2 separate regions of the Homo sapiens genome follow, and region 2 is linked to region 1. Evidence: fine-mapped expression QTL. Tissue or cell type: esophagus muscle. Region 1 holds a variant in brackets; the other region holds the start of a gene. All regions are shown on one strand. Distances are between the middles of the regions.

The links. PIP is the estimated chance that this variant, and not a neighbour inherited with it, causes the effect.
Region 2: it holds the start of UPF3A, and the variant in region 1 is fine-mapped to the expression of UPF3A in esophagus muscle (GTEx, PIP above 0.99). The same link has a PIP of 0.9 or more in visceral fat.

Annotation. Positions count from the first base shown.
Region 1 is chr13:114,227,139-114,232,287 of GRCh38, forward strand. No RefSeq gene overlaps it. Among named protein-coding and RNA genes, the nearest start is that of CDC16, 5.2 kb to the right of the region's middle. RefSeq lists an enhancer at 1,194-1,695. The variant T/G (reference allele first, on the strand shown) is at 2,882.
Region 2 is chr13:114,278,482-114,283,630 of GRCh38, forward strand. It overlaps UPF3A (UPF3A regulator of nonsense mediated mRNA decay), which reads left to right and starts at 3,120. Exons shown (of 10, transcript NM_023011.4): 1 at 3,120-3,365; 2 at 3,540-3,646; 3 at 4,356-4,462. The coding sequence starts at 3,159. It overlaps LOC105370384 (a long non-coding RNA gene), which reads right to left and starts at 2,588. Exons shown (of 4, transcript XR_007063887.1): 1 at 1,622-2,588. RefSeq lists enhancers at 2,348-2,647, 3,101-3,788 and silencers at 2,868-3,137, 3,368-3,547, 3,928-4,137.

The DNA.
Region 1 (5,149 bases):
GGTCCCAGCTACTCAGGAGGCTGAGGTGGGAAGATTGCTTGAGCCTGGGAGGTTTAGGCTGCAGTGAGCAGAGATCACACCAACGCACTCCAGCCTGGGTGACTGAGGGAGATCTTGTCTCAAAAACAAACAAACAAAAAAGATCCGGCTGACTGAAGTACCCAGGCAAATTAACCAGACACTTGGAGATTTTCTCATTTTCTACAAGGCTGAGGAGAAATTTTAAGGAGCCCACAATTCCAACACCCCATCACTCTTTCTCATGTTTTTCCCAATATTTTCATCAAATCATAAATTGTGGCAAAATAATGTATAATTCTCAATACATACAAAGTAACTCAGAATAAGGAGGACTGATCAAGAAGAATGTAACCAATCACCAAGTGCCACATTCACTGAAATCAGCAATTCATAAGCATAGTTATATGTGTGGTGTTGGGCAGGGGGGCTGTGGTGTGTGTGTGTGGTCTGTGTTGTGTACACCAGTGTGTGGTGTGTGACGTCTGTGGGGTATGTGTGTGGTATGTTGTGTGTGGACTAGTGTGCAGTGTGTAGTGTGTCTGTGAGGGGTGTGCACTAGTGTGTGGTGTGTGTGTCTGTGGGGTGTGTGTGTGGTATATTGTGTGGAGTATGTCTGTTGGGTTTGCACTAGTATGTGGGGTGTGGTATGTTGTGTGTGGTGTGTGTGGACTAGTGTGCGATGTGTAGTGTGTCTGTGGGGGGGTGTGCACCAGTGTGGGGGGTGTGTGTGTGTGTGTCTATCTCCAGATTAGATGATTTCCTGCTTTTTTTCAGTGATATACTGCTGTCATTTTTAAAAATTATCCTCAGCACTATGTTTCAGACAATAATGATAACATGTCTTGGCATAAGCAAGCTGTGTGTTAATAAAATATTTTTGACACTGAGCAACACCTGTAAGCATTGCAAACTATCCAGAGGCAGTTGTTTTTTTCACACATCACTGTAGGAAGCTTTTCCTCATTCATCTTATGGGCCCTCACTCACTGCGTTCCAGCCAGACTAGGTTTCTTTGCATTCCCTGAATGCCCTGGGCCTTCTCCCACCTCCACTCCCTCCCCTATCCACTGGTTCAACCAAATCCTTCAGTTCCATCTTGGCGTCCGTTTGAGGACCGCCACTGTGGCCTCCACAGGCGTCAAGCCTGTGTTCGCAGGGCCCTCCACAATCTGCACTCCGTCACCCGCTCCTGGCAGAACACTGGCACAGGAGACCAAAGTACACGTGGATGAGTCAATCAGAAGAACAACTTGTACTAGAAAGTGCTTTCCCAAATTTGACATCAAAATTGAGACCAGTGAACACTTTCATGGCTCATGACAAAGTTCATATCCACCTAACACAAAACGAGGGCATTATTCAGTTAATTTGATATACTAAAAAGATAATCAGATAACCAGCTAGAGATTATGACACTTCTGAATTGGCTGTTACCCTCATGTCGACGGGGCTGGACCCGTGTCTGTGGACAGCAGTCTTTGAGAAGCTGCAGCGGGAGCCTGTGCAGGATGACTAGTGTTGCAGTGTCCTGGGGGTGGTGGGACAGGATGCTAGGAAGAAAAGGCGTCCGGCACCTCAGGATGCTCTGTCCGGGTGGCTCAGCTTGCTTCCCGTAGCCTCCCAGTCCTTTTACTGAAGTTTCAGGAGGTGATGCTTGGGACGCCAGGCCTGGCAGATTCCTCTCCAGGCTTCCCTTCACCCCGCAGAGCTTCCCCGCACTGGCAGAACTCGATCACTGCCACCCAGAGGGCATTGTCTCTGAAGAGGCATGGAGAGTGGGGAAGCTGCAAACCCCAGGCTGATGTTCTTGGTGTCCCCACAGCCTGCTTTTGCCTTAAAACCCCAGGTATACTCACAAATGGGTACAACACCCAAGAGGCCATTGTCAGCTCAGGGACTTGGTTTTAGGTGCGGCTTTGGGAACTTGCTTAGGTAAGTTAGCCTTGCTGGGTCTTATTTTCCACATCAGTAAGTGCCACGAAGCTTAACATTTATAAGCCAACAGAATGCCTCAATTTTAATTAACAAACATTAATTATCAATCATTTTTTACCTGGATGGAGGTTAATTCAAAGGAAAGGTATTAACCCAGAGGGTTTTTCTTTTTAAGAGTGTTATTGTGGTGCCCATGTCCCGGCGGGGAAGCTCTGAGCTTCCTCTGCCCAACTCTGCAGGCGACGCTTATGGCCCCGTCTGTGGCGTCCAGGTGCACCTGGACAGGTCTCCAAGGCAGCGCTGGAGCAGATTTGCAGCCACAGGGTGTGGAGAAATGCAAGATGAATTGAGACTTGATGTTTGGATAGATGTTAATTCCAAACTTGAGAACTGTCTTTGTAAAATGACAACAAAGACGTATCTGCCAATCATTGACTTCTTAATCACTGCCTTTGCTCTTTCAAAGCCTCAACATTTTGCAGTTTCAGCCAACAGAATTCTCTAACTTTGTAAACTGCTCTCCTGTGGCGACAATACCACCTCACTCTAATCAGTGAGAAGGGTGATTGTTCTCTCTTCCTTTCAGAGTAATTTAAATTCTTGAGAAACCACTTGGCATGTTTAATATTCTGGTCATACTGAAAATCCAAGTCTTGTTTTCCTGACCGTATTTCAGGAACTAGTTTAAGGACGGAATTATCTTTTAAAACCACAAAACAAAGATTTTTACACACTGAATTTCACAAAACTCAGTATTGCAGAATTGCAAACATGCTCTGTGACTCAGTCTCCAGGGCTTAACTTCCCCCTTGTAGTAACTTTAGAGGGTCCTGAAATTTTAGCTTCTTTAACAAGGGCAAATACTGGGAGAGAATGTAAGGGGAGGAAAATAAACAGAATGTCTTCTGTTAGACAAGCCAGCCTC[T/G]GGCATGTACACATTTGGCAGAGTTCTAATTTTGTTTGCTAACCTCCGATCACTACCTGAAATGGGTCTCTGCAGGATATCAAGGTGTCAGCAGCGCTGTGCTCCTGGAGCATCTAGGTGAGAATCCCGTCCCTGGCCTTTCCCAGCTTCAGGAGGCCACCTGCACTCCCAGCTCACTGTTCTTCCTTCTTTCCTTCCTCCATCTTCAAAGCCAGCGGCGTAGCGTCTTCCAGTCTCTTTGACTCTGACCCCCCGGCCTCCCTCTTTCACTTGTAAGAACTCTTGTGATTACATCATACCCACCCACATAACCCATCTTAACTTAATCACCCCTTGCAAAGTCCATTTTGTCGTGTGAGGTAATACACAATATTTATGAGCCCTATCAGTTTAACCAATTAGTAAGTGTGGTAGAGGAAATACAACGATGGAAGGTTTAACCTGAGGAAAGAAAAATAGCTCAGAGCAGTCTGAACTATTTGAAGGATGCAAAATGTATCAGGACATGAGTGTGGGACTAACTTCAGTCACTCTGCTCCCCATGCCACAGGGGCAATTGTTTAAGGCATTTTGTTCCTGACTGCTGTGTCACCCATTATTTTCATGTTTCTGGAGTCTGTGAGACAAAGAAAAATGTATAGTCAATCAATAGCTTACGTTGTTTTAATGTAAATTTTTGATAAACAACTCAGGAACTGCCCTTTCTTTCCTCCTTAAACCCCCCGCCCCCAACCAGGTACCTGCTGCTGGTTGGGTGCATACTCAGGGAAATTCAAATCTGTGCTCCCAGGTGGTCATCCTCAGGGCTTGTGCTCAAATAAACTCCATGCTAACTCGTATTTTCTGAATCTTTCTATCTAAGGTTGACAAACCTAAGGGGCATCATTCTAAAATCAGTAAACATGATTTTGCTGTAGGCTATTACAGGTATAGAAGGGAAGAAAAGCACAAGAAATCTAACCAAATATAGAGACTCCAGGTCATTCTATTAGAATGTGATGTGGTTTGGATCTGTGTCCCCACCAAAGCTCATGTGGAATTATAATCCCTGCTGCTGGAGGTGGGGCTGGTGGGAGGTGGTTGGATCGTGGGGGTGGAGTGCCCATTGCTGCTGGCGGTGGGGCTGGTGGGAGGTGGTTGGATCGTGTGGGTGGAGTGCCCATTGCTGCTGGAGGTGGGGCTGGTGGGAGGTGGTTGGATCGTGCGGGTGGAGTGCCCATTGCTGCTGGCGGTGGGGCTGGTGGGAGGTGGTTGGATCGTGGGGGTGGAGTGCCCATTGCTGCTGGAGGTGGGGCTGGTGGGAGGTGGTTGGATCGTGGGGGTGGAGTGCCCATTGCTGCTGGAGGTGGGGCTGGTGGGAGGTGGTTGGATCGTGGGGGTGGAGTGCCCATTGCTGCTGGCGGTGGGGCTGGTGGGAGGTGGTTGGATCGTGCGGGTGGAGTGCCCATTGCTGCTGGAGGTGGGGCTGGTGGGAGGTGGTTGGATCGTGCGGGTGGAGTGCTCGTGAAGGGTTTAGCACCATCCTCTACTTGGGACTGTATAGTGAGTGAGTTCTTGTGAGGCCTGGTTGTTGAAAAGTGTGTGGCACCTGCCCCCTCTCTCCCTTTCTCTTGTTCTGGCCAGGTAAGTTGTGTCTGCTTCCCCTTCGCCTTTCGCCATGATTGTAAGTTTCCTGAGACCTGCACAGAAGCAGAAGCAGCTATGCTTCCTGTACAGCCTGCAGAACAGTAAACCAATTAAACCTCTTTTCTTATAAATTACCCAGTCTCAGGTGTTTCTTTTTATCTTTTTTTTTTTTGAGACGGAGTTTCACTCTTGTTGCCCAGGCTGGAGTGCAGTGGTGCAATCTTGGCTCACTGCAACCTCCGCCTCTGGGGTTCAAGTGACTCTCCTGCCTCAGCCTCCCGAGTAGCTGGGACTACGGGCATCTGCCACCATACCCGGCTAATTTTTTGTAGTTTTAGTAGAGATGGGGTTTCAGTATGTTGCCCAGGCTGGTCTTGATCTCCTGACCTCACATGATCCAGCTGCCTCGGACTCCCAAAGTGCTGGGATTAAAGGAATGAGCCACCGGGCCTGGCCTCAGGTGTTTCTTTACAGGAATGTGAGAACAGGCTAATACAGAAAATTGGTACTGAAAAGTGGGGCATTCGTATGAAGATACCTGAAAATGCGGAAATAACTTTGGAACTGGGTAATGGGCAGAGGTTGGAAAAATGTGGGGGGCTCAGAAGAAGACAAGAAGATGGGGGAAAATTTGGAACTTCC
Region 2 (5,149 bases), 51 kb after region 1:
TCATAAAAACAAACTTGTGTAGTTATTAGAAAGCATCTATTCACGGCATCATTAACAAATTAGGCATTATACAGAAGTGAATTTTCCAGGCAACTGAGGTGCTGCCTTAAACACAAAACTTTTTATCTTAACCTATCTGAAGTGTATTCCCTGTATTTCTACCTTCTGAAGCAGAACAATGATAGCATTCATTTCTTGAGGATCCCCAGGTGTTAACTCTAGTAAATCTTTTAAGGAGGGCTTTGTTCCCCTTCATACTGATGAGGGTCTAGCACTGTTGTATGGTGCATTGAAGACTAGCATTCAGACCCCATCCTGTCTCCATTCATCATGGTGAAAGTCAGGTATCGCGCTGGAAGTTAATGCAGTAATACATTTAGAGACCATGAGTTACCCCACGCTAAATTAGACTCAAACTAATGCGTTTTCATGTTTTCATTTTTAAATGGCTTTTCTGTCTCTCTGTCAGGCATCATGTATGCCTCCCCTGTCTTGAGTTGGGGCTAAAAAATCAAGTGACTGAACTTAAGGTAATTATTTTTAAAACAACTAAAATGAAAGTATTATATTAATAAAGTGCTGAGTTTTTTACATTTATTTTTCCTGCCAGAGCAAAAAAAAAAAAAAAACCATTTAGTTTTCTCATTGATCACTGTTAGAATTTTTCTGGTTTCTGTAAGTGAATGTCAAAAGGTTCAGACACTTGAGTAAGCTGTAATTCGGATCAGCAGCAGTGTTAACACCAGTGTTTAGGCCTCTGAGAGTAAAAACAATGTGTCGTACTGCCAAGTATTGTTCCTGTTACTACCCAATTCTTCAGTATCTCAGGACACAGTTTATCCTAAAAAGGTGTCCTGTTTGCTAACTACAGTGGCTGTGTTATCGTTAAAGGAAATACTGGGAAGTGTTACGGTCACCAGCTTCAAGTCACTGTCATCTACCAATGAGATAGGGGCTACCAAGTAAAATGTAGCCCAGGGCCACATTCACAGATGGAAGTGTTCAGTTAAGCAAAAGTAAAGTTACATACTAAAAGCCCACATGAAGAAGGATTTGGAGATATTTCTTCCTGCTTTGCTTTGGCTGTAAAGTTCTGTACATGTATCAAACAGAGCATTTCAACAGGCTGGCTAATGTGTAGGAAGCTAGCTTTTCTTTGTGATATAATTTGTCATGTAAAATCATAAGCTATTTTACAAGTGTATTTCATTCACTGTATCTTAAAATTCATATGGTTTTATTTAAAGATAATTTCATCAAACAGCTGAATTCTAAAATCCTACCTTTTTTTCAAAATCATTTTTCAGAACTTTGCAATAACAGGAAGTAAAGAATCAGAAGGGTGTTAAAAAATTGACTTGGGGGGAAAAACATTTGGACATTTTGCTGGCTAGGTTTACGAAATATACACATCCAGCAAACATGTGAGTCCCTTTAGGGTACAGTGCAGTGAAGGGAGAAGTGGAAATACTCAAGGTTCTGGGGAAGGTCAAATGAAGGGTCCCTCACATTGGCTGAGGCCAACCTGGCTTCAGAGGTGTGCAGAGGCACCAGGCCGAGAACAGGGCTTTGCAGTGGTGAGGGCAAAACATGAACACAAGAAATACCCTAAGTTACTGACCTGGTTGTGCCTGGTGACAGATGGGACCAGCTCTTTTCTCCATTTGGTAATTTTGGAAAATTTGGCAGAGTTAATAAAGAAATCCCCTTGGTGCAAGATTGCTACAATAAGAATCTATTATAGATGGCAGATGTGAAGTTCACAGTCCTTTTTATTATCCTAACCTAGTAACATGACTAGAGGTAAAATTAAATATTGAGTTAGATGATTGTTTAATATTTTAAAACCAGAGGGAAGACATACAAATAGATTGAGAGCAGTTTCTTTCTAAAGATAATCAGAATATATCTCCTATATTTTAAACACTGCAGGAACAGTCAAAATTTTAAAATAAATGGTTTCCACATTTTTTTATCCCCATCTCTCCCCCTGACTATATAGTAAAATATTTTATTTGGCAACCACGTTTTCCTACTTTTAATCACACATCATCAGAGCTTTTCATCAGCCTAACTAGTCTTCCTACTCACTGAGTTGTGACGAAAGCCTGGTCTAGGCACTTTTACCACGGCCATGTTTTTGTTAAGATCCCTGCAGACTGTGAACTATGAAAACCAGCCCCTGGCCCCGCTTGTGGGTGCTGCAGAGCCGCGTGTGAACTGCTCCTAGGAAACCGCGTCTCTGGGCAGGGTGGCTCTCGGGCCGTGGATCCGCCTAAAAGCTTTTCTGCCAGTGACGCCCTTGGTCTCTGGATGTGTTCACGCCTCAGTGATTTTACTCTCTGGTTTCTTGTGTGTGCTTGAGATTCTTGAGAGAAAGCGTGCTGCAGATGAAAAATGCAGCCTACATGAAAAAGAGAAGGGGAAAGCCATTTTAAAATAACTTCCATGTAAGTTACTGTAATCAAAGTGCTGCTGCCTGTGTGTTCATAAAAAAATATGTGCAAGGGCCCGGAGCGGTGGCTCATGCCTGTAATCCCAGCACTTTGGGAGGCCGAGGTGGGCGGATCACTTGAGGTCAGGAGTTACCGAGACCATCCTGGCCAACAAGGTGAAACCCCGTCTCTACTTTAAAAAAACAAAAAAATTAGCCAGGGGTGGTGGCGCGTGCCTGTAGGTCCCAGCCACTCAGGAGGCTGAGGCAGAGGCTGCAGTGAGCCGAGATCGCGCCACTGCACTCCGGTCTGGGCGACAGAGCGAGACTGTCTCCAAAAAAATTAAGAATTCAAATGTGAACCCGGCTTTCATGGCGCCCCGGCCACGGAGAGCCTGGGGGAGTGGGATAAAAACGGTGCTGGGATGGGAGGGCGGCTTGTCCGCGAACTCCTCCCACCACGCCCGGACCAAAGCCGCCGGCGCCCCGCTTCCGGGGCCGCCCTAAACCGCGGCCGCCGCTCCCTGAGGGGCCGCCTGACCCGGCGGAAAGCCAGGCTGTGTGGCCGGAGGTCACCACCCCGACCCCGACTAGTCCCGCAGCGCCTGACCCCTTCGTGGGCGGCCCCGACCGCCGCGGCTCGAGGAGGGGCGGGGCTGGGGCGGCCGAGCTCTCGCGAGGTTTCGTCGGGGGCTGGCGGCTGCGGCTCGGCGGAGAGTGCGGCATGCGCTCGGAAAAGGAGGGGGCCGGAGGCCTTCGGGCGGCCGTTGCCGCGCGGGGCCCGAGCGGGAGGGAGAAGCTGTCGGCCCTAGAAGTGCAGTTCCACCGCGACTCGCAGCAGCAGGAGGCTGAGACGCCGCCAACTTCGTCCTCCGGTTGCGGGGGCGGTGCGGGCAAACCTCGCGAGGAGAAGAGGACGGCCCTGAGCAAGGTGGGGACGGGGGCGGGGCGCGCAAACCTCGCGAGGAGAGGACGGCCCTGAGTGGAGGGAGGGGAGGGAGGGGAGGGAGGGGCGGGGGCCGGGCCTCCCAGCGCGGTACGCGGTGCCTTTTGAGCTCCTTGTCCACGCTCCGCCCCGGTGGGAACGGCCGCGCGCTCCCCGCAGGTGGTCATCCGCCGCCTGCCTCCGGGCCTCACCAAGGAGCAGCTGGAGGAGCAGCTGCGCCCGCTGCCAGCACACGACTACTTCGAGTTCTTCGCCGCCGACCTGAGGTGAGGCCCGCCCCGAGGGGAGGAAGAGAGGGCGGAACCCAGAGCTCGGCGGCGGTGGCCGTCTCGTTGCCTTACGTTCCTTACCCTGATTTCTCCTATATGGGAGTCGTGTGAGCTTTTTGAATAAATACATTTCAGTAAAACGTGTCCGTTCCGTCAAAGAAAAATACCACCAACAAAGAAACACAGATGTGGTTTACATGAAAAATGCGGATGATTTTCAGACGGCTAACGCTTAGGAAAGCGGGTGCCTTTGAAAGGACCAGCGTTGCCCGCCCGGCGCCTCCCGGGCTTCCCTGCTCGTCCGCGGACGGGGCGCTGCGGGGCCGGGGGGCGCCGGCTCTTCCTGTGGCCTCCACGCTGGTGCCGCAGCCAGTGCGGTTTTAAATACCGGAGAAGGTCCCCAAGTCAGGAGAGTCTCTCGGCGCCACGGGTTCCTCTGGGAGTGCGCCCTGGCCTTGCCTTAGGGTTTCAGCCTCGGAGGACCGGTTCTGGGCAGTGGAGAAGGGACCTGAGTTCTGCCTTGTAAAGTTAACGTTTTGCGTTTGTTTTTGCTAAAGAATATCCAAGTTGTTACAATTAACTGAGATGATTTGGCACAAAAGTTTTATCTAAAGTAGTTTGTTGTGCCCAGAAAAGGAAAAAGAGGCTAAATTAATGGACTATTGTATTTTTCACTGACCATTTTCACTGTTATCTCTTATTTCAGTCTTTATCCTCATCTCTACTCAAGAGCATACATTAATTTTAGGAATCCTGATGACATCCTTCTTTTTAGAGATCGTTTTGATGGATATATCTTCCTTGACAGCAAAGGTTGGATTATTGGTTTTTAAAAATCTATTATAATCTGTAGGTATACTAATGAAGTATTGCTAGAATATTCGTGCTTTTTAAATTATTATTATTTTTTGAGACAGGGTCTTGCTCTGTTGCCCAGGCTGGAGTGCAGCAGCCGCAATCACGGCTCACTGCAGCCTCACACTGCGGCTCAAGCAATCCTCCAGCCTCCTAGGTAGCAGGGACCACAGGCGTGTGCCACCATGATCGGCTGATTTAAAAAAAAAATTGTGTAGAGACGGGGGTCTCACTGTGTTGCCCAGGCTGGTCTTGAACTCCTGGCTTCAAGTGATCCTCCCACCTCAGCCTCCCAAAGTGCTGGGATTACAGGCGTGAGCCACAGCATCCGGTCTATTTGTGCATTTTAATTAAAAAGTTCTCAGACTAAAATAAGTTTATAAATTTTGATTATGTTACTGTAATTATGTGCAGATATTAAAAATTGAAATTATTTAATTTTATTATTTAATCCAAAAAAATTCCAGAAATTCTGTGTAATAGTGACAGCCTATTTATGTATTATCATCAGAGAATGAAGGTTTTCATGAGTGAGTTTGTTGCATGAGAGAACTTGATCTTTTTAGGTTCTAAAGCTAAACTATTTTACCTGATAGGAATTTTCCAAAATGTACACTGACTTCTATCTTCCTAAACAGCATCCTT